Regions from separate parts of the Homo sapiens genome. Here all the other regions are linked to region 3. Evidence: fine-mapped expression QTL. A gene starts in region 3. Each other region holds a variant in brackets. All regions are shown on one strand. Distances are from middle to middle.

What was found.
Region 1: its variant is fine-mapped to the expression of CAMK1D in whole blood (INTERVAL, PIP 0.97).
Region 2: its variant is fine-mapped to the expression of CAMK1D in whole blood (TOPMed, PIP above 0.99).
Region 4: its variant is fine-mapped to the expression of CAMK1D in whole blood (TOPMed, PIP above 0.99).
Region 5: its variant is fine-mapped to the expression of CAMK1D in whole blood (INTERVAL, PIP 0.97).
Region 6: its variant is fine-mapped to the expression of CAMK1D in whole blood (INTERVAL, PIP 0.98).
Region 7: its variant is fine-mapped to the expression of CAMK1D in whole blood (TOPMed, PIP above 0.99). The same link has a PIP of 0.9 or more in atrial appendage, left ventricle, lung and neutrophils.

What each region holds. Positions count from the first base shown.
Region 1 is chr10:12,833,902-12,838,171 of GRCh38, forward strand. It overlaps CAMK1D (calcium/calmodulin dependent protein kinase ID), which reads left to right. Exons shown (of 11, transcript NM_153498.4): 11 at 1-1,644. Among named protein-coding and RNA genes, the nearest start is that of MIR548Q, 110 kb to the left of the region's middle. The variant G/C (reference allele first, on the strand shown) is at 2,453.
Region 2 is chr10:12,657,811-12,662,080 of GRCh38, forward strand. All of the region lies in intron 2 of CAMK1D (calcium/calmodulin dependent protein kinase ID), which reads left to right. Among named protein-coding and RNA genes, the nearest start is that of MIR4481, 6.7 kb to the left of the region's middle. The variant T/C (reference allele first, on the strand shown) is at 2,133.
Region 3 is chr10:12,347,736-12,351,735 of GRCh38, forward strand. CAMK1D (calcium/calmodulin dependent protein kinase ID) reads left to right here and starts at 1,812. Exons shown (of 11, transcript NM_153498.4): 1 at 1,812-2,175. The coding sequence starts at 2,084. RefSeq lists silencers at 971-1,230, 1,271-1,830, 2,001-2,090 and enhancers at 2,127-2,626, 2,801-2,960.
Region 4 is chr10:12,241,747-12,245,746 of GRCh38, forward strand. All of the region lies in intron 10 of CDC123 (cell division cycle 123), which reads left to right. Among named protein-coding and RNA genes, the nearest start is that of CDC123, 48 kb to the left of the region's middle. The variant TA/T (reference allele first, on the strand shown) is at 2,304.
Region 5 is chr10:12,386,800-12,391,069 of GRCh38, forward strand. All of the region lies in intron 1 of CAMK1D (calcium/calmodulin dependent protein kinase ID), which reads left to right. Among named protein-coding and RNA genes, the nearest start is that of CAMK1D, 39 kb to the left of the region's middle. RefSeq lists enhancers at 1,443-1,942, 1,992-2,492. The variant C/T (reference allele first, on the strand shown) is at 2,569.
Region 6 is chr10:12,157,321-12,161,320 of GRCh38, forward strand. SEC61A2 (SEC61 translocon subunit alpha 2) reads left to right here. Exons shown (of 12, transcript NM_018144.4): 9 at 588-785; 10 at 3,610-3,801. Among named protein-coding and RNA genes, the nearest start is that of MIR548AK, 29 kb to the left of the region's middle. The variant C/T (reference allele first, on the strand shown) is at 1,586.
Region 7 is chr10:12,263,845-12,267,844 of GRCh38, forward strand. No RefSeq gene overlaps it. Among named protein-coding and RNA genes, the nearest start is that of CDC123, 70 kb to the left of the region's middle. RefSeq lists enhancers at 333-871, 746-845 and a silencer at 466-525. The variant C/T (reference allele first, on the strand shown) is at 2,051.

The DNA of each region.
Region 1 (4,270 bases), 490 kb after region 3:
ACTGTTCAGTTTGTTAAAAAAAAAAAAAAAAAAAAAAGATGTATATACCTGTATGTGATCCACCACCCTTTTGAGGGGCACCTGGTCCTCGGTTGGGGCTGCAGGTGTGCCTGACATTTGCAAAAGATATTCCAGTCTTTCGATGTTCAGAATTGAAAATGTGGAGATAGAAAAGCTCAAACAGACTCCTAAAAGGAGGGTTTCTTTCCTGAAGACTCCAAGAAAATGAGTGTGCAGATGAGTTAGCTTGACAACCTCAACTCTGGGGAGCAGGCAGGCGGTCTGAGGAAGATAAGGGCCCACGCCCCACTCACCTGGCACCTGTTCGGTGGTCCCGGGGCATCATGGTCTGCAGCTCTGGGCCCCCAGCCCCACTGTGAAGTCAGTCCTGCATGCTGGCCGAGGCCCGGCCACCTCCCGATGCCTCCAGAGTCAGTGGGAAGGAGTCAGCCCTTCCCAGACTTCCCCGCCACCTCCAGCAGGAGCAGCTCAGTTTGTGGCTCTGGGAGCTCCGCTTTTGCAAACCCAAAAAGGCTGTGCATTTGGAAGCCAAACGCTCAGCATGCGGCTGCCGAGTCTGGTTTTGTGGACAAAGCAAACTGTGGAATGGCTTCTCGGTGTCTGTATAAAGGGACAAACGGTTGCATTCACCCTTTGTACTATAACACCGCTTCTGCATTCGCCATATCCGTTTTTTAACCTTTTTGTCTCCGGGGAACTTCTCATTCGATTATTATGTCTTCTGATGATTTGCCATGTTATTTTAAAGGTGATTTTATTTTCTTATGGACAGGAAAAAAGAAAATGAGGAGGAGTTGGTTTTACTCTTAGAGATAAGACTTCAGCAGGGGCTCAGAAACCCCAAACTCTAGTTAAATTGCTTCTCGGAGGAAAATCTTAATCTAGACAGATTCAGATTCCCAGGCTCTCCTGGAAGCCCTGCACTTCAGGGCACAGGGGCCCTGGGACGTGGTTGGCAGCCAGGCTGCGAGAGAGCTAAAAAGGAACAAGAACATCAGCTCGGATGTTTGTCTCTCAGCCCTGACACCTGCCACTCTCCTTCCCGGGGCACTTGGCCCTATCAGAGGGACATGAAATGCTGTCCGAATGGTGGCAGAAATGCAGCGACATTGCATGCAGCAGAGTCTTTGCTTCGAAAGATGGGGCGCCATGTTTCAGAGAACATTTATCTTAGTCCCACGTTCAGGTGAGAAGACCTCAAAGGTACCCTCTGTCCAGAATAAACATTGGAACAATCTCTCAATTGGCTTTTGTCACTACACATAATGTAATCTCCCTTCTTTCAGCTCCCCCAACAGTGAGCATGCTTCCCAAAAAATTACAACATCAAAACCAGGAATGTCCCCGCATCTACTATTACCAGGCTTGCAATTGGTTCAATTTTCCCATAAAAACATGTTTGTCCAAAAGAAGGGAAACTGTGAATTTATTCCATGCATGTAATAAACTCTGCAAGAAGTTTAACCCACATAGGTTTGCGGCACTGCAAAATTGTTCATGGGTCTATGTAGCAAATGATTCTCTGCCTTGACAATCATGTATACATATCAAGATTTCTATCATAATGATAATGAGATTGATGACTTCCTGTTTTCCTCCAATAAAGACAATTAATCACCTTCAGATGCTCATTTCCTCTGTCATGAGAAGGATGTGGAGTTTCAGTGTCTCTATCTTTCCTCTGCTTCCTGAAGTTTGGATTTGAAGGAAGGAGTTTGAATTGAGACCCCCCAAACTCATGGAGTCCCCCTTAAATATTTCAGGTCACCTCCCCAGTGAGCAGGGAGTGGCAGGGATGGGTGAAGGGATGGTACATCGTGCCTTTGGGGTTGGGGACAGGTGCCCAGGTTCCATGATCACTGGACAGGAAAGCTCCCCCTTTTCCCTGCTGCTGCAGAGGGGGACTGGAGGTGAGCCTGGGAACTCAAATCGCACTAACTCAATATTCCTAAGTCATGTGGAGGAAAAGCCAATGCTGATCCCCAGGAAGCGCCTCTGAGTCATGGGTGGCTTGGCAGCCTCAGGCTTCAGCAATACACACCCACGTTCTTCCATTTCCTCGGCATAGCAGTGCCCAAAGGAAGATTCTTTTCCAGGCAGAAGGCTGGCTGCTGTCTTTTGTGGGGGTTTGGGGGAGATGCAGGAGGAGGAACTACAGTTCATAGCTCATCAAATGTATTGTGGGGCTCGGGTCTGATGGCCAGACAATTCTTCCAATCCAAATAGGGATTGTGTAGGGAGAAAAAAATGAATTGGACATGTGTTATAGAAATGTAGAATTAAAACTGTCCCACACAGCCAGCATCAGATGAAAACAGCATGGGTGGGCCTTACTGAAAAAAGGCTATGAGCCCAAAAGAAAGGCAGTGCCCACTGTCTGATGTCTAGTTCTTTTGTGGTTGATTCTTGCTTCTGTAGCCCAGACCCTAAT[G/C]ATGAGTTGCATCAATACAAAGCTATCATTCAGTGGGTGAATATGTGATGTCGTTATTGCAGGTTTTATGGAACATAACATTTTGATGGCAAAAAAGGAGATACAAATCGTGTGCACCCAAATCCCCCTGACTCTCTCTGCCCCCAAGGAGAGTGACTATGCCATCAAAATCCTGTTTCATAGGCCAGGCACAGTGGCTCATGCCTGTAGTCCAGCCCTTGGGGAGGCCAAGGCGGGCGGATCACAAGGTTAGGAGTTCGAGACTAACCTGGCCAACATGATGAAACCCCATCTGTACTAAAACTACAAAAATTAGCTGGGCATGGTGGTGGGCGCCTGTAATCCCAGCTACTCAGGAGGCTGAGGCAGGAGAATTGCTTGAACCCAGGAGTTGGAGGTTGCAGTGAGCCGAGATCGCACCACTGCACTCCAGCCTGGGTGACAGAGTAAGGCTCTTTCAAAAATAATAATAATAATAATAATTCTGTTTCATAGAGAAAGATTCTGATAACAGATTTCCGTAAGTTCATCTGCATGTTGAGTAATTTGGCTGGGCTGGATGTGGTCTTAGGCATATGTATACACTTGGCTTGGACCAGTGCTCTTTAGCTCAAGAAAGACTGAGCAAGAGGTACTGTGCCCAGCCTCATATTTTACATACTACTTGGTTGCAACACCTGTGCTGAGCCCCCAGAATGTGTAATTCCCAAAAGAGCACCCCAATTTCACATTCTCTTCCTAACATAGAGAGTATGTATGTGTGTATGTACCATGTAAGGGGCTTCAAGCTGAGGGAAGTGGTGAGGTGTGATTTCCAGTCCATATCCTGCATGCCAAGCCATGCACCCTGGCTCAGGGGAAAAGATGTTTTTTTTTTTTTTCCCCATCCAGTTCATACAAAGGCACTGTATGGGGGCCTGCTGGCTTGGTGGGCCCAGCGGACCGTGAGCATTAGGCTGTGAGCTGTGGGCCAACTGCAACTTTTTATCAGGTTTTCAAAGCTGGAGAAAACTTCAGCTAAGAGCTCAGAATCGAGCAGGCTCTGAGGGAGTTCATCTGGCCTCTTGTGTAGGGATGTCCGAGTTGAAGAGTATATTAACCTTCAGGAAACTATCACTAAGGGGCTGGTGCATATAGAAGCACTTTACAGAGTTCATTAGACATCACACTGTAGAAAATGGGTTGGCCTCCCCATCTCACTTCACCAAGAAACCCAGGAAGTCTTGCCTTTCATTCAGGACGATTGGCAGCAATGACATGAGACCTTAGCGCCCTCGGAACCCACAGATCCTCCCTGATCTATTCCCCCTACAGGCTCCCATCAGTGCCCTTCCACCAAACACAGTCATAAGCTTTCATTCATTGATTCATTCCCTCCTTCATTCACTCAACATTTGTGAACACCCCTTATATCCAAGGGTTTTCGTTCATGCTGAAAAACACCAAAGTCAATCTGACATGAATCCTACCCACGAACACTGCATAAAACAGGAAGCACTCGAGTAAGCCTGGGAGGAAGGGGAGAGTTTAGACAGGAAGGATTGAATAGGTGCAATGTGAGGGAGAGCTTGGAGGCTGGGAATGCAGCATTCGGTGGGCTAGTCCATAGTTCATCGGGCCAGAGCAGAGGGTGTGAGCAAACCCGGGAGGAGAGAGAAAGGTGGGCTGGAGGGGCACGGGAGTCATTGTCATCAACAATAACTTCTGGAGCTAACACCATCACGTATTGACCATTTACTGTGTCCTGGACACTGTGCCATGTACATTCCATTCAATGTCTCATTTCACCAGCAGCCCTTAATAGGGAAGGCGCCCTGA
Region 2 (4,270 bases), 310 kb after region 3:
AAACAGATACCTGGATACAATGCAGTACAGACAGCAAGGTGATCCAAGAACTGGGGTGGGCCAGGTGCGGTGGCTCACACCTGTAATCCCAGCACCTTGGGAGGCTGAGGCGGGCGGATCAACTGAGGCCAGGAGTTCGAGACAGCCTGACCAATGTGGTGAAACCCTGTCTCTACTAAAAATACAAAAATTAGCTGGGCATGGTGGCACGTACCTGTAGTCCTAGCTACTCGGGAGGCTGAGAGGAGAATTGCTTGAGCCCAGGAGGTGGAGGTTGCAGTGAGCCGAGATCGTGCCACTGCACTCCAGCCTGGGTGACAGAATGAGACTCTGTCTCAAAAAAAACAAAGAACTGGGGTGACCCAGAGGAAAGGTGATTGGTGCTGCAAGCTGTGAGAAACAGCAAAGGGTTCTCAGTGGAGGTGATAGAGAAATGAGTCTTAAAGGATGAGTATTTTCGTAAGAAGACAGGAGAGTGATGAGCACACTCAGAGACGAAGGTGTGCATGGCTGGGGAGGGCGGGGTGTGCGAGACCTGCCGGGGTTCAGTAAAATGTTGGTGTGGGGCAGGGTGGAAGATGATGTGGGATGGGCAAGTAAAGACCAAGTGATAGGGGAGGGGGGCAGGGAAGTGCTTGGGAAAGGGAAAGTCATGGTCCATGCCTAGTGCTCCACCCCCAGGCCTATGTGCACAAAACTAGGTAAGGACAGGCATTTCTGTTTTTGTGCCCAAATGTTGCCTTCCCCAAGACCACCCTGGCCCACCATGTCCCCATCCTGTGCCTATAAAAACCCTGAGACCCTAGTGGGCACACACACAAATGGCTGGACATCAAGAGGAATGCACCGGCAGACCCACAGGCAGCAGAAGACACCATCAGGCCATTGACCAGCAGAAGGACGTGGAGTTTGGCTGGGGCAGTTGGAGGAGAGCCCAGCCGCTGGGCAGCATGACTCCAGGGGAAACCACCTTCCCACTCCATTCCCCTTCTGGCCTCCCCTTCCACCTCACTGAGAGCTACCACTCCATAAGAAACTTTGCACTCATTCTCCAAGCCCACGTGTGATCCGATTTTTCCGGTACACCAAGGCAAGAACCCCAGGATACAGAAAGCCCTCTGTCCTTGTGATAAGGCAGAGGGTCTAATAGAGCTGATTAACACAAGCTGCTTACAGATGGCAAAACTAAAAGAGCACCCTGTAACACATGCCCACTGGGGCTTCGGAAGCTGTAAGCATTCACCCCAGATGCTGCTGTGGGGTCGGAGGCCCACAGCCTGCCCGTCTGCATGCTCCCCTAGGATTATCAACAGCTGGCACTGAGAACGTGAGCCAGTCCCCCTGTCGCACACCCTGCAAGTGGGATAAGGGAACTTTTCCCATTTCACAAGTAACAAGTGACTTGTAAGCCATGCCAGTTGTTTGAACTTTCTCCTGTACTACAGGGAGCCAGTGCTGGATTTCATGCTAAGAAGTTTTATCAGTTCTATATTTTGGAGAGATCACTCAGGAGACAGCACGGAAAATGGATAGGAAGAGAGTGAGACCAGAGGGAGTTGGGGAGAACAATTAAGTGATTATAAACTGTGAGTGATCATCTGTGAGATAGGAATAATAATGCCTACTTTATAAGGCTGTTGCAGAATGAAATAACACCTGCCAATGTGCCTGTTTATTAAAATGAAAGGTATTACTTTTAATACCATCTGGCCAATATTTCAGTGCTATCACTGTTCTTGTGACTGACAATATCCCAATTTTCTCAGCATTATTTCCCACACTGATTATAATGTGAGAAAACAAGAATTTGACCCTAGTAAGGAGGAAATGATTTTTTTTTCAGTTTCGAAAAAACATAAGCGTTTACTTAGATAAACGGGAGGGTTTGCCAAGACATCACAATATTCTTCAAGTACTTTTGAGGCAATTCCATGCCAGGGAACCACGCCTCTCTTTTTGTGTGAATAAAATTTCAGCTTTCTGGGCTGCTTAGAGTGACAATGGTGGGTAGTGAAAGACCTGGTCCTCTATGGCCTTTGCTTGCGGAGAGAGGCCTTTCCCAGACTAGACTGTAAACCCGGAAGTGCCTGAAAAGCGGACCGGAAGCTGATTGCGGCTCGTTGACGTAACTT[T/C]CTCCTTGCACATTGCAGGGCAATCTGTGCCTCGCTATCCCCACCTCATCCTCTCTTATAATCAGTTTCACTCTTGTCTCTCCCTTCCGATTGTATTTTCTTACATCCCTTGTCTTCATCTGGCGTTCATAACCTAAGTAGGTCAATGCCCATTACTAGAGAATGGCAATAGCAAGGAAAGGCATTTTGTGGTCTTTTGCTTCCTCTGAATTACCTCATAATTGCTTCCAGGGATGCCCTGCAGATCAGTAAAATGATCGAATGGAAAAAGTGAGAAATGCTGAACTTTTTTTCTCCTCTCTTTTGTGCTTTGCTTTTTCTTTCTTTTTCTTAAATTTTCCTCATTTGCCATGGAGTTAAAAATTTGTGAATCCTTGAACTGGGGTACATGAGGCTGGAGGGGAAGATGTTACTCTCACTCCACAGAAGCACGTGTAGTCAGTAGCAGGCTGACCCTTTGGGTCCTGATGTTCCCTTACAAAGCTTGGGGGCTTTGTAACGGGGCCTGTTTGTACATTTGGTATCAGTTATTTTTTATGCATGAATTAATTTTAAAATGTTTTCTTGGCTTTTTCTGGAGTTTTCTTGCTTGGCTGTCAGTTACTATATGGACAGAAGTCTGCTTCAATGCCCATGTGCTTTTTTCCCATTCAAGTTGACTCTCTCTGCCTGGACCCACTTCCCTCTACCATTTCTGTGCATTATTGGAGATTATGGAGGCTTTCATGTAGGTTGCCATATAAACCATTTTCTCTCTGTATATAGATGTGTCAGCTCATGCTTACTTTGGGCCTGGTAAATGATAAGTGATGAAAATTAAGTTGAGTTTCTTTTTATCACCTGAAGTTGTTTTCAGTGACATTATTATGGCTTTGAATTACGCACATTTCAGGACATTTTGCTGTTTGAGAGTCAACATCCCTTATGGATGAAGATCCTCTTGGCCATACTTTGGAAAGAGTGTTGACCTCTGGGATTTCGCTGTGCTAGTTGACAGAATCTCCATTTTCCATTTGCCTATAACTGACATCTCTGCCTCTTTTCTCTGTTCAGTTGATTCTCTTTTTTGATGACACTAGCAGATATGGGCTAAGGAGAACCTCTTTCTAATTACTCTGGACTTCTCCCTATTCCTTCTGCTTTTCAACATGTCTTTTTCTGATTCTGTCTGACCCACTGGAATTTCATCTGTTAGGATGTTTACAACCGAGTATCTTGAGCACATCCACTAGATTCAAGATAATTCAACAAATCTCTGCACCCACAGAAGTGGATATTATATTGTTAATGATGGCATTAATACTTTGACTTTAGATATTCTAATTTTATAGAAATAACTGAATTTATATGAGCTCTTGGATAGTCTCATAACTTAGTTAAGTTATAGCGTAATTGCTTTAACATGGGCTAGGGAGTGAGAATAGACATAGATTGAATCTCAGCAATGACAATTATGAGTTCTGTGATCTTGGAATACTTACCTAGCCTCATGGGATCTTAGTCTCCTTCCTTATTTTCTCCTCTTTTAAAAATTGAGAAAATAATACCTACTTCATGGGCTTGTTGTTAATGGTAAATGAAATAATTAAAAATACTTAGTGCAGTCTTAACACATAGTTAACAATAAATGGTACAATAAAACAGCAATGTAAGCAAGGCCTAACAAAAGTTATAAAATTAGCTCATCACTAGGTTTAGATCTGTGACATCCCAGGGGACTGAGGAAATTGCACTTATCACAGAAGAGTCACAGCTGAAATGTTTGAGAAAACAATGTAAGAGAGGTTGTCAAAATTCCCAAACATATAAAGGGTAGAAGATGAGATCTATAGACTGGAAAGCTTGACTTCAATGCACAGCAAAATTCTGGAACAGAAAATTAAGCAGATGGTTTGTGATCATTTAGTAAAGACTGTAGTGGTTGCTAGGAGCTAACATGGGTTACTAAGAACAAATCTTCCCGAACATCCCATTTCCCTTTTAAATAGTATTATGTGGTGTGTAGAGCTGAAGAATTCTACTTCTGCAAAGCATCTAATTGTCTCCTTATGGATGGGATGGTAAAACACAGGCTAGATGATAGTACTGCTAGGTTTGCAGCTAGAGAGCAATTGAAGCCAGCTGATTAACGTCATGGT
Region 3 (4,000 bases):
CTCTGGCGGCTGTTCCTGAGGCCAGGCAGCAAGGGCAACATAGCAGAGAACCAAATAGGAAAAGAGGAGAAGGAAACACAGTGGGAGGAAGGGAAGGAGAAAGAAAGGACAAGAAGATGCTGACTGTAGGCATGAGAAAGCGACAGTTGGGATCTTAGTTGACTTATGCCCTGGTTCCCACTGTTTGTATTATCTAACCTTTGGCACAAGTAAAATACATGATAGTTTTTCAAATGTTTCTTATTGAAGGGGATGCTGTTTGCCTTGAACTTTGGTAATGTGCCTCAAGTATAAGAGAGGTTCCTTAGTAATTCTTCTCACCCATCCGTGTTGGAAATTGGGTTTGTGGATTTATTCTACATCTAACCGGCAAGTAAATCCCCTCTTTGCTCTTCTCAGTTTGGAAAACCTTAAGCTAACCGTCTTTGAAAGATGGAAACTAGCATGGAGGTCCCAGGAATGGGGATGCCAGGGTGTCGTCTGACCTCTTTAGGGTCAGAGTAGGGGCTGAGGGAGAGCAGCTGGGCTGCCTCCACTTCAGCCAGAGTCAGAACTAGGCACAAGGTGCTGGATGAAGTTTCCTATTCAGGGAGCAGATTTTTTTTTTCCTTTTACAGTGAAATTGGAACAGTCCTGGGAAAATGGGACAGGTGTCCCCAGTCAAGAGACAGAGCTGTTTACCCAACTACGAGGAGAGGCCCTGAGGGAGGCGAAGTGTTGATACCAAGAAATCTAAAATTTTCCGATCAAGAGGTCGCCCCTGCAGGTTGGGGACCAGGGAACTGGAGCACGTGGGCTGCCCTCTGACAGGTGGACACCAGGAGTGGGGCGGGCAGGCCAAAGTACAGCTGGGAGATGGGAGTCCGGAGGGAATTCTCTGGGTTAGTTTTGGCAGTCCATAGGAAAGCAGGTGCCTGCCCCGCAACCCGGACACCCTACTAAGCCAGCCGCGGGTGGGCTCCTCCTTCGAGGGGACTGCGGGGCAGACGATCACTTCTTTCCACTGAGTCTCTGGGAGGAGACAGGGAGATGCCAGAAGGGGCCAAGCGTGAGCCAGGGCAACCAGGCCGGCCAGGCCCGCCGGCCGCTCCAGCCCAGCACCAGGGCGCCCGCGCGGCTGCCAAACACCCCCGGGAGTTTTGCTCGCAAAGGGACCACGAGGCAGCTGCTGGCGCGTCCTGCGCGTACCCGCCCAGAGGCTCCCCGGCTTGCTCCTCGCGGGTCTGTCCCGAAACTGACGTGAAACCGATTTGGTGCAATGCGAATGAGCTCCCGCCCGCCTCCGCCTCCATCCCAGCCGCCGCCGCCGCCCGTCGCCATAACAACCGGCCCCCACCCCCCCCACCCCACGCCTTGCCCCTCGGGTCCCCCGGGCCACAGGCCACAGCGCGGGAAGGCGCCCCGCCCTCGGCGCCCCGCATCCGGCCGCCGCGCACCCCCGCCCGCCCGGCGCTTCCGAGCCACGCAGAGGCGCCCCCTCCCGCCGGAGACGGGAAAGCCCCGGCGCCCCCAGACTGGGCTCCGTTTCCAGCTCCCGGAGGGGCTGGGGCTCTCCCGCGTGCGCCCCGCACCTGCCGGGGGCCCGTACCCGCCCTCGCCGGGGCTCCAGGGGGCACGACGGCCGTGGCCCGGCGCTCTTGGGAGGGGAGCGGGACATCCCCGAAGGCGGCGCGCTGGAGGCGGGGAGCGGCCGGGGCGCACGGAGAGGGCGGGGAGCCCGCGGGAGGGGGAGGAGGGGGAGGAGGGGGAGGAGGCGCGAGGTGGGGGGGAGCGCGGCGGGCGGCAGGGAGGGAGCGGGAGGGAGGCAAGAAAGTAGCAGAAAGTGAGGCTGGCAGGCGGCGGCAAAGGAGCCGGCGCGCGGCGGCGGCAGGAAGTCTGTGCCCGAGAACAGCAGAAATAAGAGCCAGGGAGGGACCGCGGCCGCGGCGGCGGCGGCGAGAGCGAAAGAGGAAACTGCAGAGGAGGAAGCTGCGCCGCAGCCCGAGCCGCCCGGCATCCCCGCCGCCTCTGCGCCCGCGCCGCGCCCCCGGCGCCCCCTCCCCAGCGCGCCCCCGGCCGCTCCTCCGCGCCGCGCTCGTCGGCCATGGCCCGGGAGAACGGCGAGAGCAGCTCCTCCTGGAAAAAGCAAGCTGAAGACATCAAGAAGATCTTCGAGTTCAAAGAGACCCTCGGAACGTAAGTGGGGACCGGGGAGGCGAGGGTGGAGGTGGCCGCGGCAGGGGCTGCACGGGCAGCTCCAGCTGCCGCCGCCGCCACTACCGCGGCAGAAACCCAGCCTGTCACCGCGTCCTCATTGTCCCGTTCTCGGCGCTGCGGAGCCCCCCCGAGCGCGCCCGACGCGTGGGCCTGCGACCCCCGGGTGGGCGCCGTTCCCGGGAGGGGGAGGGGGCAGCGCCGGGCTGTCAGGGAGCAGCCCACGCGGGCGCGCGACTTCCCACTTCTCCTGCCACCGCCGCCCTCTCCGCTGCCTTCTCCCCACGCGTGACTGTGGGCTGAGCATGGTGGGGATGGCTGTTTACCGGCTGTGTGCGTTTACTCGCCGTGTGCATGGGCGCACCGCGTTGGCGAGACGTGGTCACGAGAAGATCAGCCTCCAGTCGTTCCCATTTCTGTCCTTACATCATGTATTTCTATGGAATTGGCATCTGCACGTACGAGGTGTAGGCAAGACTTTGGGTGGCCACGCGAGGATGGAAGGGAAGGGCTTCGCAGTGCTCAGGGTCACACGTGGGCAGAGCCTCACCGGAGGGTCTGTGCATTTCACGCGGGCTCGGCCGCACGCGCCGGGGAGCGCGTCTCCAAGGGAGGGTCTGTGCGCGTCGCTGCGCGGGCGGTGCTCTCTCCGGGCTGCATCGAGTCCCATGCTGATGGCTGTGTCTCAAGAAAGCAGAAATAATCCGAAGTCGATGGCAGGAACGCTCCAAGCATGTGCTGCTCAGCTCAGCTGCTGTTCCCTTTCTGCCCAGGAGTTGGGTCTTGTTTGTTTTGTTTCGGAGCGGCTCAGAATAGGTGGGGAGGCTGATAGTGAAAGAGAATCAGGACCTGCCGAATGAGTCTGAAGTTCAAGTTATTTCCTTCCCTCACACAATCAGTATTTGCTCTGCATCAGTATCTGTCAGTGTGGATTCACGCACAGGTGTGCAGTCAGAAATGCCCATTTTGCAGGGGTTCATGGAGGTGTTGATTAGGCTGGGAAGAGAAAGGGGAGCTATTTCATGGGATAAATCAGTGCGTTGTTGGGTGCCCTTTCTTTCCTTCCTCCTTTTTTTCCGTGTGCTTGTTTTTGTGCTTGGTTTCTTTTTTCCAGCACCACATTACCCAGCTTGTCTTCACCTCCAGGCTCGGCGTCTGCTGCTGTTCAGTCATTTCCCCTCACCCCCACGCAGATCTGCAGGGGGTCCCCCGGAGAGAAGTTGTGAGGGTGGCTTTCCCAGTCCTGCTTCTGATTCCCGGGAAGGCGCACGCTGAGGACTAGAGTGGGGTCTCCCTGCTGTGGTTGTTGCCTTTCAGGGAGGGCACCTATTTGCTATCTTTGTTGGAATGAAAACAGAAAAAGATGTAGCTTTTTAATAAATAGGGGTTTGGGGTTGCCTCTTAGTGCAGCCAGGTAAGGGGTTAGTTTGGGTCAAAACTTTTGAAAATTGCCACTGAGGTTTATTCGGGTTTGGGGTTGTGATTCTGAGATGCTCAAGTTACTGAGAGACAAGAAAGCATGGCCTTTGCTTGTCATCCAGGACCCGCACTGTGGCCGCCAATGAGGAGATGGGAGAGCATGGGGACCCACCCTGTGTGAATGCTTTCCTGTCCGTGGCTTGTTCCCACCCGAGCCCCCCACACTGGCTTCCTGCCTGTAGCCTCCGGGTGACTGATGCCCTGTCCCCTGACTGACTCGTGCAGCTGCACCTCTGCAGTGGCGGGGCTGCTGAGGCTCCAAGCTGTGGCTCCTGCTGGAGCATGGTGTTTGGAGATGACTGTGGGTGGTTTCCACCTTGGGGAAAAA
Region 4 (4,000 bases), 110 kb before region 3:
ATTTGCTTCTACCATGTTCCTCAAAACTCATTCAGAGAAGAACAGTCATTGTGTCCTGCCCTGTCATTAGAACTGTCTCCTCACACTCCCTTTCCTGAGACTGTCGCCTTCTGGAGTTTGTGTCTGAGTTCTGATTCCCTTCCTGTGGCCAGGCTGCTAGGAGACCCTCCCACGGGTTCCCACAGCACTAGAGTTGATAGGCTTAGTTCTGTTCTTCGGGTTCTTGTTTCTGGCCCCGGGGGATTTCCCGGTCTTTCTCATAATCTCAATTACACTTTTAAACGGCTTGTCGTAGCATGTGTTTCATCCTGTTTGGAACAGCAAGCCTTGAGAGTTACATAGCTGGCTGTATTTCAGGAGCCCTCACATATCTCACACTCCAGCCAAAATAACCTATTCCCGCAACAGGCGGTCGTGGCGTGGCCTCTGTACGTGAGAGCCGTCGTTCTTGTTAAGTGGTCCGCTTTTCCTGCCAACACCACCCTCCTCCCAGGGCATCTCTGTTATCCCTCAGGTGCCCAGGTCCTTTGGGAAGCATTTCCAGCCTTCCCTCGCACATGTAGGCAGGCTCTCCTGTGTGCCTCTCCGCTCTCACAGTTCCCTGTTCTTGCCTCTCTTGAAGCAAAATACCCTGCACATTGCCATTGTTGGATGGCTTTTGGTTCTGTTTTGGGGAAGTGGAGATGTGTGTTCTGCTCAAGCCTGAGCTCTTGGAAGGAGTCGATTTTGTGTTACGATCTTCATGCCCAGTGCCTAACACAGTGTCTGGTCCCTAGAGCTTGATCGGGGCAGGGAGACAGTCAGCTGGTACAAGGACAGTTAGTCCGACTGCTCTTTGCTTATTGGATTGCCTCAAAGCAGAATTAACTTCTCAGGCTGTTTGTGCTTGAGATGTCACATGAAAACATGTTATGGCCGGGCGTGGTGGCTCACACCTGTAATCTCAGCACTTTAGGAGGCTGAGGCAGGCAGGTCACCTGAGATCAGGAGCTCAAGACCAGCCTGGCCAACATGGTGAAACCCCGTCTCTACTAAAAATACAAAAGTTAGTCAGGCACAGTGGCAGGCGCCTGTAATCCCAGCTACTTGGGAGGCTGAGGCAGGAGAACCACTTGAGCCCAGGAGGAGGAGGTTGCAATGAGCTGAGATCGCGCGACTGTACTCCAGCCTGGGCAACAGGGCGAGACTCTGTCTCAAAAAAAAAAAGTTATAAAATCCTGATCCTGATCCTCCTAGTTTATAGAAGTTACAGCTGGGTTTTTTTTAATTTACTTAAACTCTTTTTTTTTGTACTAGAGGATAGCTTCTGAGCTACAGAGTACACTACCAATTAACAGTGGTGGTTTGTTTTCATTTAAAAATGTGTTTTGGGCTGGGTACAGTGGCTCACGCCTGTAATCTCAGCACTTTGGGAGGCCTAGGCGGGCAGATCACCTGAGTTTAAGAATTGGAGACCAGCCTGACCAACATGGTGACACCCCATCTCTACCAAAAATAGAAAATTAGCCAGGCGTGGTGGTGCATACCTGTAGTCCCAGCTACTTAGGAGGTGGAGGCAGGAGAATTGCATGAACCCAGGAAGGGGAAGTTGCAGTGAGCCGAGATCTCACCATTGCACTCCTGCCTGGGCAACAAGAGTGAAAAAAAAAAAAGGAAAAAATGTGGTTTGGTTTTTTGCATTGTGGCATATTCCTATATTAAAAGTGTGATTGTTTAAAAAAAAATGAGTTAGTTTTACTGACTATAAAAAGCCAAGTAGAGGCTGGGCACAGAGGGTCACGCCTGTAATCCCAACACTTTGGGAGGCTGAGGCAGGCAGATCACGAGGTCAGGAGATCGAGACCATCCTGACACAGTGAAACCCTGTCTCTACTAAAAATACAAAAAATTAGCTGGGCGTGATGGCGGACGCCTGTAGTCCCAGCTACTTGGGAGGCTGAGGCAGGAGAATCACTTGAACTCGGGAGGCGGAGGTTGTAGTGAGCAGAGATCGCACCACTGCACTCCAGCCTGAGTGACAGAGCGAGACTCCATCTCAAAAAAAAAAAAAAAGAAAGTCAAGTAGAAAAGATTTGGAGGTTAGAAAATGTCCATTTTGTATCATGACATATATTGAAGACATCTTAGCAGTATTCTCCAAAATAAAGTTGACATCATTACCAAGAAGTTGTTTGACGGCTGATACTGTTTCACATAGTTCCAGGAATGAAGAAGTGGGTGCCAAATGGAGGTGAGGAAACAACTCAAGCGGTGAGAAATTTGCAGGGCCTCTCCTGGGGCTTGTATAAAATGAGGAACTTACC[TA/T]AATGGGTTGTGCTGAAAACATCCTGCGAAAACATCCTGCGACAGGCCTGTGCCACTTAACTGGAGGTTCTGGTATTTGAAGCAAGTCCTAATTAGATGTTGCATCTTTCTTAACAGTTTGCTCTCGCTCAGCTGAGAAACAGTGCCAGATATTAGGCATGCTGGCTCAGCGGTCTTGTTGCTTGGAATTTCACAGACACACACCCGCTCAGGACATGGCGGCAACACATTTATAGAAAAAAACAAATTCATTATTAACCAGATGGCACAAATATATGAATGTTTCAGTGAGAAAAGTGAAAAGGAGCAAAGATAAACCTTTCGAGGAAACATCCATCCACTTCGTGTCAATAGGTGTTCGTGATCGGATGCCGTGGCCGTCATTCCTGGCGGCGCAGCCCCTGTGCCCCCGCTCTGTGCGTGTCAGCACTGGCTGTTTTCTGCTCAGAGGCCCCAGCCCTACCTCAGCACAGTGCCCCCAGCTCAAAGGTGACCTTTCCCTGAGGAGAGTCACCAAATTGCCCACCTGTGGTTTCAGAACAGGACAAGGTAGACATTTCTTTCAGAGGTTGGGGTGGTTTTTTTTTTTTCTTTTTTCTTTTTTTTTTTTTTTTACGTCCCCTTCATATGCTGTCAAGCTCTATTGTACAGACGGAACACTTACCACATTCACATAGAAAGAAAACAGCATCTTCAGGCTGGGCACGGTGGCTCATGGGGAGGCCAAGGTGGGAGGACATTTGAGGTTAGGAGTTCGAGACCAGCCTGGCCAACATGGTAAGACCCTGTCTCTAGTAAAAATGCAAAAATTAGCCAAGCATACTGGCGCATGCCTGTAATCCCAGCTACTCGGGAGGCTGAGGCAGGAGAATCGCTTGAACCTAGGAGGCGGAGGTTGCAGTGAGCCGAGATCGCACCATTGTACTCCATCCTGGGCAACAGAGTGAGACTCTCACAAAAAACAAAAAACAAACAAAAACCACAGAAAAAAACCCAGCATCTTCATCCTTGCATATGGTAAAAAAATCCACCCTTGGCAGCAGCCTTTCCCGAGTCAGAAGCGCTGCTCTCTGGAGTCGCAGGCACTGCCTGGCTCCGTCCGGCTCCCCCTGAACAGAGCACTGAAGGCTCCGGGAAGACGCTTTGGTCAGACCGCAGACCCTTCGCCTTTGGGTGACAGTTCCCTTTCCTGCTGGAATCTTTTTTTCTTTTTTTTTTGGAGACCCGGTCTTGCTTTGTCACCCAGGATAGATGGAGTGTGGTGTTTTGATCACGGCTCACAGTAGCCTTGACCTCCTGGGCTCAAGCAATCCTCCTACCTCAGCCCCCTAAGTAGCTAGGACTACAGGCGTCTGCCACCGCAATCAGCTAATTTTTATATTTTTTTGTAGAGATGGGGTTTCACCATGTTGCCCAGGCTGGTCTTGAACTCCTAAGCTCAAGTGGTCTGTCCGCCTCAGCCTCCCAAAGTGCTGGGATTACAGGTGTGAGCCACCATGCCCGGCCCTGCTGGAATCTTTGACTTAAAGTTCCACTGTGGCTTGAGGCTGGAGTTGGAACGTTATCTCTTAGGCAGAGCTTTACTGGGTCCCTTCTCTCTTCATTCACAGGGGGCCCTCCCTTTAGATCTCTGTCTATTCAGACAGGCGGCCCTTTCTCAGATGGGATATAGACAGATGATCTTTTGAAATAAGTG
Region 5 (4,270 bases), 39 kb after region 3:
ATAATAATCATGTACTAGTTAGCAGAAAAAGAAGTTTGAAGTAAATTCACATACAATATAATGTTTTGATACTTTAATAAAAAATAATAATAATGTAGAACTACGAAGATAACTTTACTCAGCCGGGCGCAGTAGCTCACGCCTGTAATCCCAGCACTTTGGGAAGCTGAGGCGGGTGGATCACTTGAGGTCAGGTGTTTGAGACCAGCCTGGCCAACATGGTGAAACCCCGTCTCTACTAAAAATACAAAAAAATTAGCCAGGTGTGATGGCGGGCACCTGTAGTCCCAGCTACTCAGGAGGGTGAGGCAGGAGAATTGCTTAAACCCAGGAGGCGGATGTTGCAGTGAGCTGAGATTGCACCACTGCCCTCCAGCCTGGGCGTCCAAGAGAGACTCCATCTCAAAAAAAAAAAAAAAGTTACCGTTACATATTTCATTTTACAATTATTGCTATTCATAGAGTAGTGACAGCCTTCACGCTTTGACACTCACATTATATGTATAATATATAATGGCTAACTTTCATTGAGTTTGAGATATATATATTATATTTTATATATATAATATATATATTATATATTATATATATTATATATTTTTATATATTATATATATTTTATATATTTTATATATTATATATATTTTATATATATATATATATATAGACATTGTAAACTCTTAATGAAAGTTATATTATGTGTATCTCGGTTGCTTTTTTTTTTTGAGACAGGGTCTGGCTCCGTGGCCCAGGCTGGAGTGCAGTGGTGCAATCTCGGCTCACTGCAACTTCCACCCACAAGGCTCAAGTGACCCTCCCACTTCAGCCTCCTGAGTAGCTGGAACCCTGGCTAATTTTTGTATTTTGTTTGGTAGAGATGGGTTCTCGCTATGTTGCTCAGCTTGGTCTCAAACTCCTGTGCTCAAGCGATCCGCCCACCCCAGCCTCCTAAAATGCTAGCATTACAGGCATGCGCTACCGTACCTGGCCTGTGTGTGTATCTTTATGTCATAATAATTGCTCAATAAATGCTAACTATCCTCTATCGGGATGTAAGTTCTGAACTATTTTATTCATTGTGAAAGACTGGGCTCAAAAATTTCCCTTTCGCCCCTGCTGGCGCCCCACCAATGCTTAGTTGCTGTCATGAGTGAGTGAGCAGATGGAGCCCACTGTGGGAGGGAAGAAGCCTCAGCTCTTTTCTCCCCTGGGAACCTCCCTTTCTGTAGGCATCTTGCCAGCCAGGCATCTTTGCTTGTTCTTTGAGTAGGTTGAGGTGACTCTCAGGAGGCTTCTGGGATCGTCTCCAGAAATGCGCTCACCAAAGAAGACCCTGGCTCAGCCTCCCAAGTAGCTGGAAGTACAGGCGTGTGTGTGCCGCCGCACCTGGCTAATTTTTGCGTTTTTAGTAGAGATGGGGTTTTGTCATGTTGGCCAGGCTGATCTCGAACTCCTGACCTCAGGTGATCCGCTGGCCTTGACCTCCCAAAGTGCTGAGATTACACGTGTGAGCCACCGTGCCCGGCCCAAGCCCTTGTTACTGTCGAATTCTCCCCGAATCAACCTTGAAACTTAACCAGTTTTCTTGCTTTCAGCTTTTCCCCCAGACTCCAGCTTCTAGATTCTCTGTCTGTCAATAAGAGTGTCGAGGTTTAGAGCAGAGGCAAAAACTGGTTTACAGCAGAGAAAAAAGCCTTCATCTACGCTGGTGTGCCTTCTTGGCCCAGGAAATGTTTTTGGCAGTCTGAGTGTTTTGTCTTCTCTGTTGGGGGCTGTTAAGAGGCACAAGAAAACATACCTGTCTGCTAATTGCAGAGGTTAAAAGGCAAGAGCAAAAACACATCGCACCTGACATGCGTTTCAAATTAATAAATTGTTAAAAATGCCTACTTGGGAGACTTCTGCGGGGCTCAAAGACAGCTCCGTCATTACCTGGGGCTAGAGGCTCCAGCAGTTTTTCAGATACTGTGTGGCAATGCGAGGTTTGTCTGCTGTGAAGGGAAAACCATCCCACCGCTTAGGAAGTCGTGAGATGCAGCACGAATGTGATTTTGTTACCACGCTCCCCTGGAGGCACGTCGTGCTGTTCTAGAAAGCCTGTCGTTGGAGGAAAACACTTGATGAGCCTGCGGTAAAGGCGTGGCTTGCGATTTCACTTGGGAAGCACATTGTCGTGTCGTCTGTGTGATTTACATCCCGCAGCTGATGGAGACACCACCATACTCCATGGAAGGTCCTTCCTGTCCGATCTGTCCAAGGTCTGGAGGAAGAGGCGAGATGGGTCAACTGTGAGCTTCCATCAGCTTCTGCTTAGAGAGAGGCTAATTATTTGGGTTTCTGGTGATTCCACCAGCTCCAGATTTAAGTGTTCTCTATGCTAGGGTGGCGTGGGGGTGTGTGTGGTCAGTTACTGCTTAAACTCCCTGCAGAGGGGGCTGAGGGGCTTGGGTGGCAGGTGGTTGGCGGTGGCGCGTGCCAGCCCCGGGTCTGTGCCTAGACCAAGGCTCATGTTCTGCCCATTGCTCTTGGGACAGGCTCTTTGGGACATCAAGGATTCTGGGACCATCC[C/T]GACACTGCTCTCCTTGGGGTGCGTGGCCAGAGGTGTCTTCAGGCTTCAAGGAGAGGTGCTCAGTGCAGGAGACTCAGCTTCTGCCCAGCACCACAGGGTCGAGGGCTTGGAGCATCCAGGTGGTTTCATCCAGGCCTGAGTGAGAACGTGACCTAGTTACTGTGCCTCTCTGCACGTTGGCAGAATAAACAGACCTTGCTTCCTTCCCTACTCACAGCAAGCAGAATTCTGCTGAGCCTCTCGGAGGCTGGAGGGCCGGTTTTAGTAACGTGCCCTTTCCTGGTTGGCGACCGTCCAGTTATTTTGGGTGAATGTTAATGGCCGTGAGTTTGAAAGTTGTAGTTAGATGAAAACGCCCTCTCTGGACACAGTGTCCTTGTCACCTACTGTCTGAAGGTGCTTCCTTTTTGGGGAATAGGATTGAGAGCAAAATGGTCACAAAATCTGTGGCTTTGGATTGTCATTTGATTTTTTTTTTTTGATGCCTTCTGTCTGCATTTAGGTCAGTGGAAGGGATGAATTCATCATAGGCACTTGTAGTAGAACATCTCCTTGAGCCTCAAAGAGAAGGCTATTTTTCCTGTGGGTCATCTTTGTGCTGTGCATGGGAGGTCCTGCCCCATGGGGCAAGGTGAGTTTAACTTTTGGAGGTGGCTGGTGATCTTGGGGGGAATTTAATTTGAGGACATGTGCATGACCAATAAACTGTTCTGGAGGAATGAATAGTCCTGTGTCTCCCATATTTTTACCTTTTATAAAGCGCTTGTACTGCACGGTGTCCTTATTCTAGGCTGATGCAAAATTTTCATACTGCATTTGCTAGTGATTTGCACCAGTGGCCGAAGAACTATAAAGTAGTTGTCTCTATTTTTTAAAAATTAAAAAAAAAGATGGGGTCTTGCTCCATTGCCTAGACTGGTCTCAAACTCCTGGCCTCAAGTGATCCTCCTGTCTCAGCTTCCTAATTGCTGGGATTATAGGAACGAGCCACTTTGCTCAACCTTAGTTTCTGTTTTATTCAGAATGGAAGGAATTTCTCATATAAGTAGAATTCTAGAGCTAGAAGAGACATTGTATCTCTAGCTCTGTCTCTGTCTTTATCTCTGTCACTATATCTGTCTCTGCGTCTGTCTCTAAACTGTCTTTATCATCAGGCACAGAAAGTTAAGCCCCATTATTCAAGATCCTACAACTAGTTGAGGGTAGAATAGGGTCCATTGTGCCCAGGCAAAACCCAGGTAAGAGTGCAGGGCCAGGGCTAACCATGAGCTCCGGGACTTGTGCAGCCTGCCTGTTTCCAGTCTGTGTGTTCCCCCTTGGGTCATGTCACGTGGGAGCAGAAGCTTCTAGTCGAACGTGTAAAGGACCCAAGAGGAAAGGGGAGCCCAGAAGGGTTGAGGGACTTGCCTGAGATCACACAGCTAGTGAGCGAGTCACCTATCCAAGCCTGGAATACGGGTCCAGCTGTCCCCACGGAGCCATCCTTCTGGCCCACTAGATTCAGAATGAACTCAGGCTCAAGCGTGCGTGAATAAGAGGATGCTGTGCATAGTCCTGACTTTATGAATCAACTTGATGAGATTCTGTGTGGGGTCAACTAATGTGCTCAGAGTCCAGCATTGAGTGAGTAGGAGGTGGGAAGGGGTCCAAGCTCAGTTCTGGCAAAAACTCCAGAGCTCAGTGTTGGGCCAACACTGTCTT
Region 6 (4,000 bases), 190 kb before region 3:
TAGCATTGTCTTTTCTTTTCTTTTTTTTTCCTGAGACGGAGTTTTGCTCTTGTTGCCCAGGCTGGAGTGCAGTGGCGCGATCTTAGCTCACTCTAACCTCCTCTTCCCGAGTTCAAGTGATTCTCCTGCCTCAGCTTCCTGAGTAGCTGAGATGACAGGCACGTGCCACCACGCCCGGCTAATTTTTTTTTTTTTTTTTTTGAGATGGAGTCTTGCTCTGTCGCCAGGCTGGAGTGCAATGGCGCAATCCCGGCTAACTGCAACCTCCGCCTCCTGGGTTCAAGCGATTCTCCTGTCTCAGCCTCCTGAGTAGCTGGGACTACAGGTGCATATCACCACACCCAGCTAATTTTTTGTATTTTAGTAGAGATGAGATTTCACCACGTTGGCCAGGATGGTCTCGATCTCCTGACCTCGTGATCTGCCCGCCTCGGCCTCCCAAAGTGTTGGGATTACAGGCCTGAGCCCCTGTGCCCGGCCGGCATTGTCTTTTCATCCCCCGCACTGTTCTTTGTTTTCCCTCTCTGGTCTCTGTTCTTTTCTTAATGTGTCTGGCTCCCCCACTTACTCTCCGTTTCCTTTTTTAGGGATTTCGCGTTGATCTGCCCATTAAGTCGGCCCGTTACCGAGGACAGTACAGCAGCTACCCCATCAAACTCTTCTACACCTCCAACATCCCCATCATCCTCCAGTCGGCCCTGGTGTCCAACCTGTATGTTATTTCCCAGATGCTGTCTGTTCGATTTAGTGGCAACTTTTTAGTAAATTTACTAGGACAGTGGGCCGTGAGTATTATGTTTATTTACATTATTTATAGTTTATTATAATTTGCATTTCATGGTTGTATTTTTAATGGAATGAGGTCGACATTGGAGCATTTGCTGTATTTTCAGATTCACTTACCTATATAGCAGAGTTTAGTACTTATCTGGAAGAACTGGTAAGTGTTGCAGAAGTAAGATTGCCCAAGCGCTTTTTATTATTTTGCTCTCTAGGAAGCACTTTCACATCTCATTTGAATGACCTTTTAAGCTAAAATTGTGGTTGATTTCATAAAAGTAATTTCCTATTTTGTCATCTTATTCCAGTATTGTCTACAATAATGCTTTCTAAAAGATGCTATTTGCTGGCTGGGTGCGGTGGCTCACTCCTGTAATCCCAGGACTTTGGGAGGCTGAGGTGGGTGGATCACCTGAGGTCAGGAGTTCGAGACCAGCCTGGCCACATGGTGAAACCCCGTCTCCACTAAAAATACAAAAATTAGCCAGGTGTGGTGGCAGGTGCTTGTAGTCCCAACCATTCAGGAGGTCAAGTCAGGAGAATTGCTGGAACCCAGGAGATGGAGGTTGCTGTGAGCTGAGATCACGCCACTGCACTCCAGCCTGGGCGACAGAACGAGACTCCGTCTCCAAAAAATAAAAACAAAAAATGCTATTTGCTGCTGCTAACATGTGAGATACTGGACTCATCCTAACCTTTCCTATCTCCCACCCTGCCTCCAGGCCTCCTCCATTTTTCATGGTCTGAATGGCAATAAGCCAGCTTGTGATGAGCTGGGCTAGAGATAGGCATGCTATTAACTAGA[C/T]GGTAGAGACAGCGGTGCTGCTAGTAATATAATCCTATACATTCTCATATACATCCCCCATCATAATTTTTTTTTCTTTTTTTTTTTTTTGAGACGGAGTCTCGCTGTGTCGCCCAGGCTGGAGTGCAGTGGTACGATCTCGGCTCACTGCAAGCTCCGCCTCCCGGGTTCATGCCATTCTCCTGCCTCAGCCTCCCAAGTAGCTGGGACTACAGGCGCCCGCCACCACGCCCAGCTAATTTTTTGTATTTTTAGTAGAGACGGGGTTTAACTGTGTTAGCCAGGATGGTCTCGATCTCCTGACCTTGTGATCTGCCCGACTCAGCCTCCCAAATTGCTGGGATTACAGGCGTGAGCCACCACACTCGGCCCATAATTTTTTCTAAAGCCATCTAGCCACGCTGTTATTGAAGCGTGAGTTACTGTGGGACTGAATTTTCATTGGTTTAAATTCTGTCACCTAACAAAGGGGTATTTTCCCTCTTAAAATTATAGATTTTAGCCAGGCGTGTTGGCTCTCATCTGTAATCCCAGCACTTTGGGAGAACAAGGAGAGAGGATAGCTTGAAGGCCAGGAGTTGGAGACCTGTCTGGGCAACATAGCGAGACCCCATCTCTACAAAAAAACTTAAAAACTAGCCGGGCACAGTGTTACGTGCCTGTAGTCCTAGCTACTTGGGAGGCTGAGTTGGGAGGATTGCTTGAGCCCAGGAGTTTGAAGGTACAGTGAGCTGTGATCATACCACTGCATGCCAGCCTGGTTGACAGAGTGAGACCGTGTCTCAAAAATAATAGAATTTTAAAAGACTAATGTCCTTTATTCTTTGCCACAGTAGGTAATTCTAGAATTTGCACCCCACCAAAGAATAGTATTTTTCTGTACAGTTATTCTTGAAATATGGTGTTTATTCTGTGCATTTGTCTTAATATGCTTTTTTTTTGCATTATAAGTTACAAAGACTCATACCTTTCTGCTTTTACTGAATGTCATTTAAAAAAAAGGTTTTTTTAAGATAATAAGACAGTAACTCATATATTAGTTGAAGGGAATAGGATTCCCTTTATTCATAATACTTCTTTCCCATTCATTTAAGAGAAATGTGATGATCTCTGTTGTATTCTGGCTAATATTATATCGAGGACAGGAAAGTCAAGAGACAGGAATAAGAAGAATGCTGTTTCTGCCCTCCTTAGAATAGTCCAGCAGCAGCTATTACTCTGATCAGAATGTCATAGTGATAGTGCTTTGAGTAGTTGGTCCTGTACAATTTGTGTTATGATTTTGAGTAAGATTCTTCTGAATGAGAGAATGATTGGGAGATAGTGCTTTTGATCTGGGATTAATGATTCTAGGGGCACAGTAAAGAAATCATTGGGCAGTCATAAATTCAAGAACCAGATACTGTAATCATCGCAACTAAAAATTGGTTTCTCACCCCCTATCTGTATACCCCAAAACTTTATTTAATATGAGCAAATAATGCTGTTCCTATTTCTGTAAGATTTAAGTATATAGATAAAAATCCAATTATTATATTTATTAAAAGATTGCTCCTTATAACATAGAAACCACATAAAGTCTAGGCAGCAAGTTAAAGTCTTATGTCAGTATTTTAGTTGATTGCATTAATATTTTCATATGGAAGGATCATTCATAGGGATCTTAATGTACTGACTGGATACTCTCATAGCTCAGAAAATTTCAGATTTTAAGTATAATCAGAGGTTGATTGTAAATGTAATCATATTCCTATTTTCAGTAATGGAAGATTTTGTAATATATTACAATTTTTAAAAATGACTCAATATTTTCACAGTGTCTTGCATGTAATAGGTGTTCATCGTATAACTTTGAAGGAGTGAAGGTAGTAGACACAAAAGTACATTCTGAAACTACATAGAATGACTAGCTGTAGATGCCTTGAACTTAAAACACTGTCATTTCTGAGAAGTTTGAAGTGACATGCAAATGTATTCCTGACTAATTAGGTTGACCACTTGTTCTTTGTACTCCTGTTCTGTAGGATGTCAGTGGGGGAGGACCCGCACGTTCTTACCCAGTTGGAGGCCTTTGTTACTATCTTTCTCCTCCTGAGTCCATGGGCGCCATCTTTGAGGATCCTGTCCATGTCGTTGTTTATATCATCTTCATGTTGGGGTCATGTGCATTCTTCTCTAAGACATGGATTGAAGTGTCTGGTTCCTCAGCCAAAGATGTAAGTGTTTGGTTTATTTTAAAATAAAACTCTTGGCAATGCATGGTGGCGCACATCTGTAATCGTAGCACTTTGGCAGGCTGAGGCCGCTGGATCGCTTCACCTCAGGAGTTTTGAGACCAGCCTGGGCAACATAGCGAGACCCCGTCATGACTAAAAAAATACAAATAAAAATCGGCCGGGCACGGTGGTGCAAGCC
Region 7 (4,000 bases), 84 kb before region 3:
TGTTTGGCTGCCACTTAATAAGTGAGAATATGCGGTATTTGGTTTTCCGTTTCTGCGTTAATTTGTTGAGCATAATGCTGTTTTCTTTTTTTTCTTTTAGACAGAGTTTCGCTCTTGTTGCCCAGGCTGAGTGCAGTGGTGCCATCTCAGTTCACTGCAACCTCCACCTCCCGGGTTCAAGCGATTCTCCTGCCTTAGCCTCCCGAGTAGCTGGGATTACAGGCGTGTGCCACCACGCCTGGCTAATTTTTGTATTTTTAGTTGAGATGGGGTTTCATCATATTGGTCAGGCTGGTCTCGAACTCCTGACCTCAGGTGATCCACCTGCCTCGGCCTCCCAAAGTGCTGGGATTACAGGCGTGAGCCACCGCGCCTGGCCATGCTGTTTTCTTAAACTAATCAAAAATAGTCTAAATACTGTACTTCACAGAATTTGTAAGGCTGGAAGAATCGGCCTGTGGCTGCTTCCAGCCTGGGAAAGGGATGGGCCACAAGATGGCGCCGCGCGTGCGGCGGTGAAGGCCGAGGCCGCCAGTGCCAGGTGGATGCCCGCCCTCCCCCAGGCCCTCAGGCCACGAGCAGGGGCGGGGGCACGGCTCACGATGTCATTTACACCGAGACAAAAGCCTAAATTGCTCCCTGTGCTTTCAGTGACCTAGGCCTTCCTCTCGTATTCTCTTTCTCTCGTATTCTCAAGTGTTTCTAGAAATGTGCTCTGGAGACATCCCCAAGCCAGTAGCTCCTCCCTCATTCTGAGAAGGCGGTTTAGTGCAGCTGGTCTCTGAAGGCATTGGGTGTTTTCCCCTCAGCTCCCGAGGGACAGCGTGGGAGGGTGGTGCTCTGGGCCTTCTCTCTACCATGCTTTGTTGTTGTTGATTTGTTTAAGCGCCAAACACTGAGTTTCCTTAATGTACCTGTGGGAAGATCAGTGGCAGAACTAGCAGAGGCTGTGTCCGGGCGCGGTGGCTCGCGCCTGTAATCCCAGCTACTGGGGAGGCTGAGGCAGGAGAATCGCTTGAGCCTGGGAGGTGGAGGTTGCAGTGAGCCGAGATCACACCACTACACTCCAGCATGGGTGACAGAGCGAGACTCCATCTCAAAAAAAAAAAAAAAAAAAAAAAAAAAAAAAAAAAGAACTAGCAACAAGCAAAGGCTGTGTTGCTTATGATACTTATTCCTGACAAAGGAAGGATGAACCTGAACTCTTAAATCTAAGGTGTTACCGGAAAGGGGTCCCGATCTAGACCCCAAGAGACCCTCGCACAAGAAGGAATTCAGGGCGAGTCCATAGAGTAAAGTGAAAGGAAGTTTATTAAGAAAGTAGAGAAATAAAAGAATGGCTACTCCATAGATAGAGTAGCGCAGGGGGCTGCTGGTTGTCCATTTTTATGGTTATTTCTGGATGATACGCTAAACAAGCGGTGGATTATTCATGCCTCCCCTTTTTAGACCATACAGGGTAATTCCTGATGTGGCCTTGGCATTTGTAAACTGTCATAGCGCTGGTGGGAGTGTAGCAGTGAGGACCACCAGAGGACACTGTCCTCGCCATGTTGGTTTTGGCCACTGTTTTACTGCAACCTGTTTTATCAGCAAGGTCTTTATGACCTGTGTTTTGTGCGGATCTCCTATCTTATCCTGTGACTTAGAATGCCTTAACCATCTGGGAATGCAGCCCAGTAGGTCTCAGCCTTATTTTACCCAGCTCCTGTTTAAGATGGAGTTGCTCTGGTTCAAACGCCTCTGACAAAGGGACAGTCATTTCACCTCACACATGAAAGCAAACCTAAAATTTTCTCTATTGGAAGTTCAATCTTGGCTAAGGGCATGATTTAGAAATCAAAGGAGTCTGACCTTCACGTGGTTTTGAACACTTGTGGAAAGGTAGCTGTGGGAAGGGACGTAGCCTTTGTAATGCAAGAGGAGAGAATGGGGTGTGGGGCGTGTGGCCCAGAAATGACACAGAACTCTGACAGCACTGCCCGGTTGCCATGTAGCTAGGTAAATATTTGCAAAGCACCTACTGCTTCTCCGGACTCGGGGCAAGTGT[C/T]TACTGGGCATGAAACCATCTCCGTGGGGAAGTGAGCCTTACCCAGTTCTTATCTCCCTCTTGAGGCCAAGTTCACAGAATATGACACAACTTCCAGAGGAAAGGGGGGCCTGCCAGTTCTTATCTTCCTCTCTCAGCTGGCATTGGGACATTTTAGTGGCCAGGACCAATGTGTTATCTGTAGGAGCCCTGAAGAGAAGAGGTGGGCCCAGAGGCTTTTTTTTTTTTTTTTTTTTTTTTTTTTTGAGACAGAGTCTCGTTCTGTCGCCAGGCTGGAGTGCAGTGGTGCGATCTCGGCTCACTGCAAGCTCCGACTCCCTAGTTCAAGCGATTCTCCTGCCTCAGCCTCCCAAAGAGCTGGAATTACAGGCACACACCACCACACCTAGCTAATTTTTGTATTTTTAGTAGAGACAGCGTTTCACCATGTTGGCCAGGGTGGTCTCGCTCTCCTGACCTTGTGATCCGCCTGCCTCGGTCTCCCAAAGTGCTGGGATTACAGGTGTGAGCCACCGCGCCCGGCCAAGACTCGTCTTCTGGATATTAATTCCCGGAGCTGTCATTTCCTGAGAGCTCATGATCAAGAGGCATTGAGAGGTAGACCAGCTCGCTGTATAATTGTTAGCGGTGCCAATCTGTAAGGCACGCTACAGTGTCATGGAGCTGTAATGAGATGGAAAATCATATTTCTCAGAGGTCTTCTCAGGTAGACTATTCTTTTTTAAAAATTTCAAATACAATTTAAAAACAAGTGCATGTTTTAAAATGTCATTTACCAAATCAAAAGCCAAACTAATAGAAAAAAAAATTTGTAACAAATATGCCAGATCAAAGCTTAATATAGTTAACATACAAATAAAAGGACTTCAAAATTAAACAAAATAAGATTGGGTTAAGGATGTTATACAGGCAATTCATAAAGGAAAAAACACAAATATACAATAAATATATAAAAAGATGTTCAAGACAGAATAAAAAATGCATATTACACTGTTGTAGAATAATATTTTTATGTAACCAAGTGAGAAATATTTTTAAATGGCAATATAATTGGTGTAGAAATGTAATCCTATGTAATTCTGCAATATATATGTTCAAAAGGCTTTTTTTTTCTTTTTAGGAAAGGCCTCTATTATAGATTTGATTAAAAAATATATATATATAGCCTGGCGCGGTGGTCACGCCTGTAATCCCAGCACTTTGGGAGGCTGAGGCCAGCGGATCACGAGGTCAGGAGATCGAGACCATCCTGGCTATCACAGTGAAACCCCGTCTCTACTAAAAATACAAAAAAATTAGGCGGGCGTGGTGGCGGGTGCCTGTAGTCCCAGGTACTCGGGAGGCTGAGGCAGGAGAATGGCGTGAACCCGGGAGGCGGAGCTTGCAGTGAGCCGAGATCGCGCCACTGCACTCCAGCCTGGGCGACCGAGAGAGACTTAAATAAATAAATAAATATAGAACCATTTAGATTTTCTATTTTTGTGTATCTGTTTTGCCTTTTTTTTTTTTTAGACGGGGTCTCACTCTGTCGCCAGGCTGGAGTGCAGTGGCGCAATCTTGGCTCAAGGTAACCTCCGCCTCCCGGGTTCAAGCGATTCTCCTGCCTCAGCCTCCCGAGTAGCTGGGACTACAGGCACGTGCCACCACGCCCAGCTAATTTTTGTATTTTTAGTAGAGACGGGGTTTCACCCTGTTAGCCGGGATGGCCTCAATCTCTTGACCTTGTGATCTGCCTGCCTCGGCCTCCCAAAGTGCTGGGATTACAGGTATGAGCCACCACACCCAGCCTTTTTTTTTTTTTTTTGAGACGGAGTCTCGCTCTGTCTCCCAGGCTGGAGTGCGGTGGCGCAATCTCAGCTCACTGCAAGCTCCGCCTCCCAGGTTCACGGCATTCTCCCGCCTCAACCTCTGGAGTAGCTGGGACTACGGGCACCCACCACCAGGACCGGC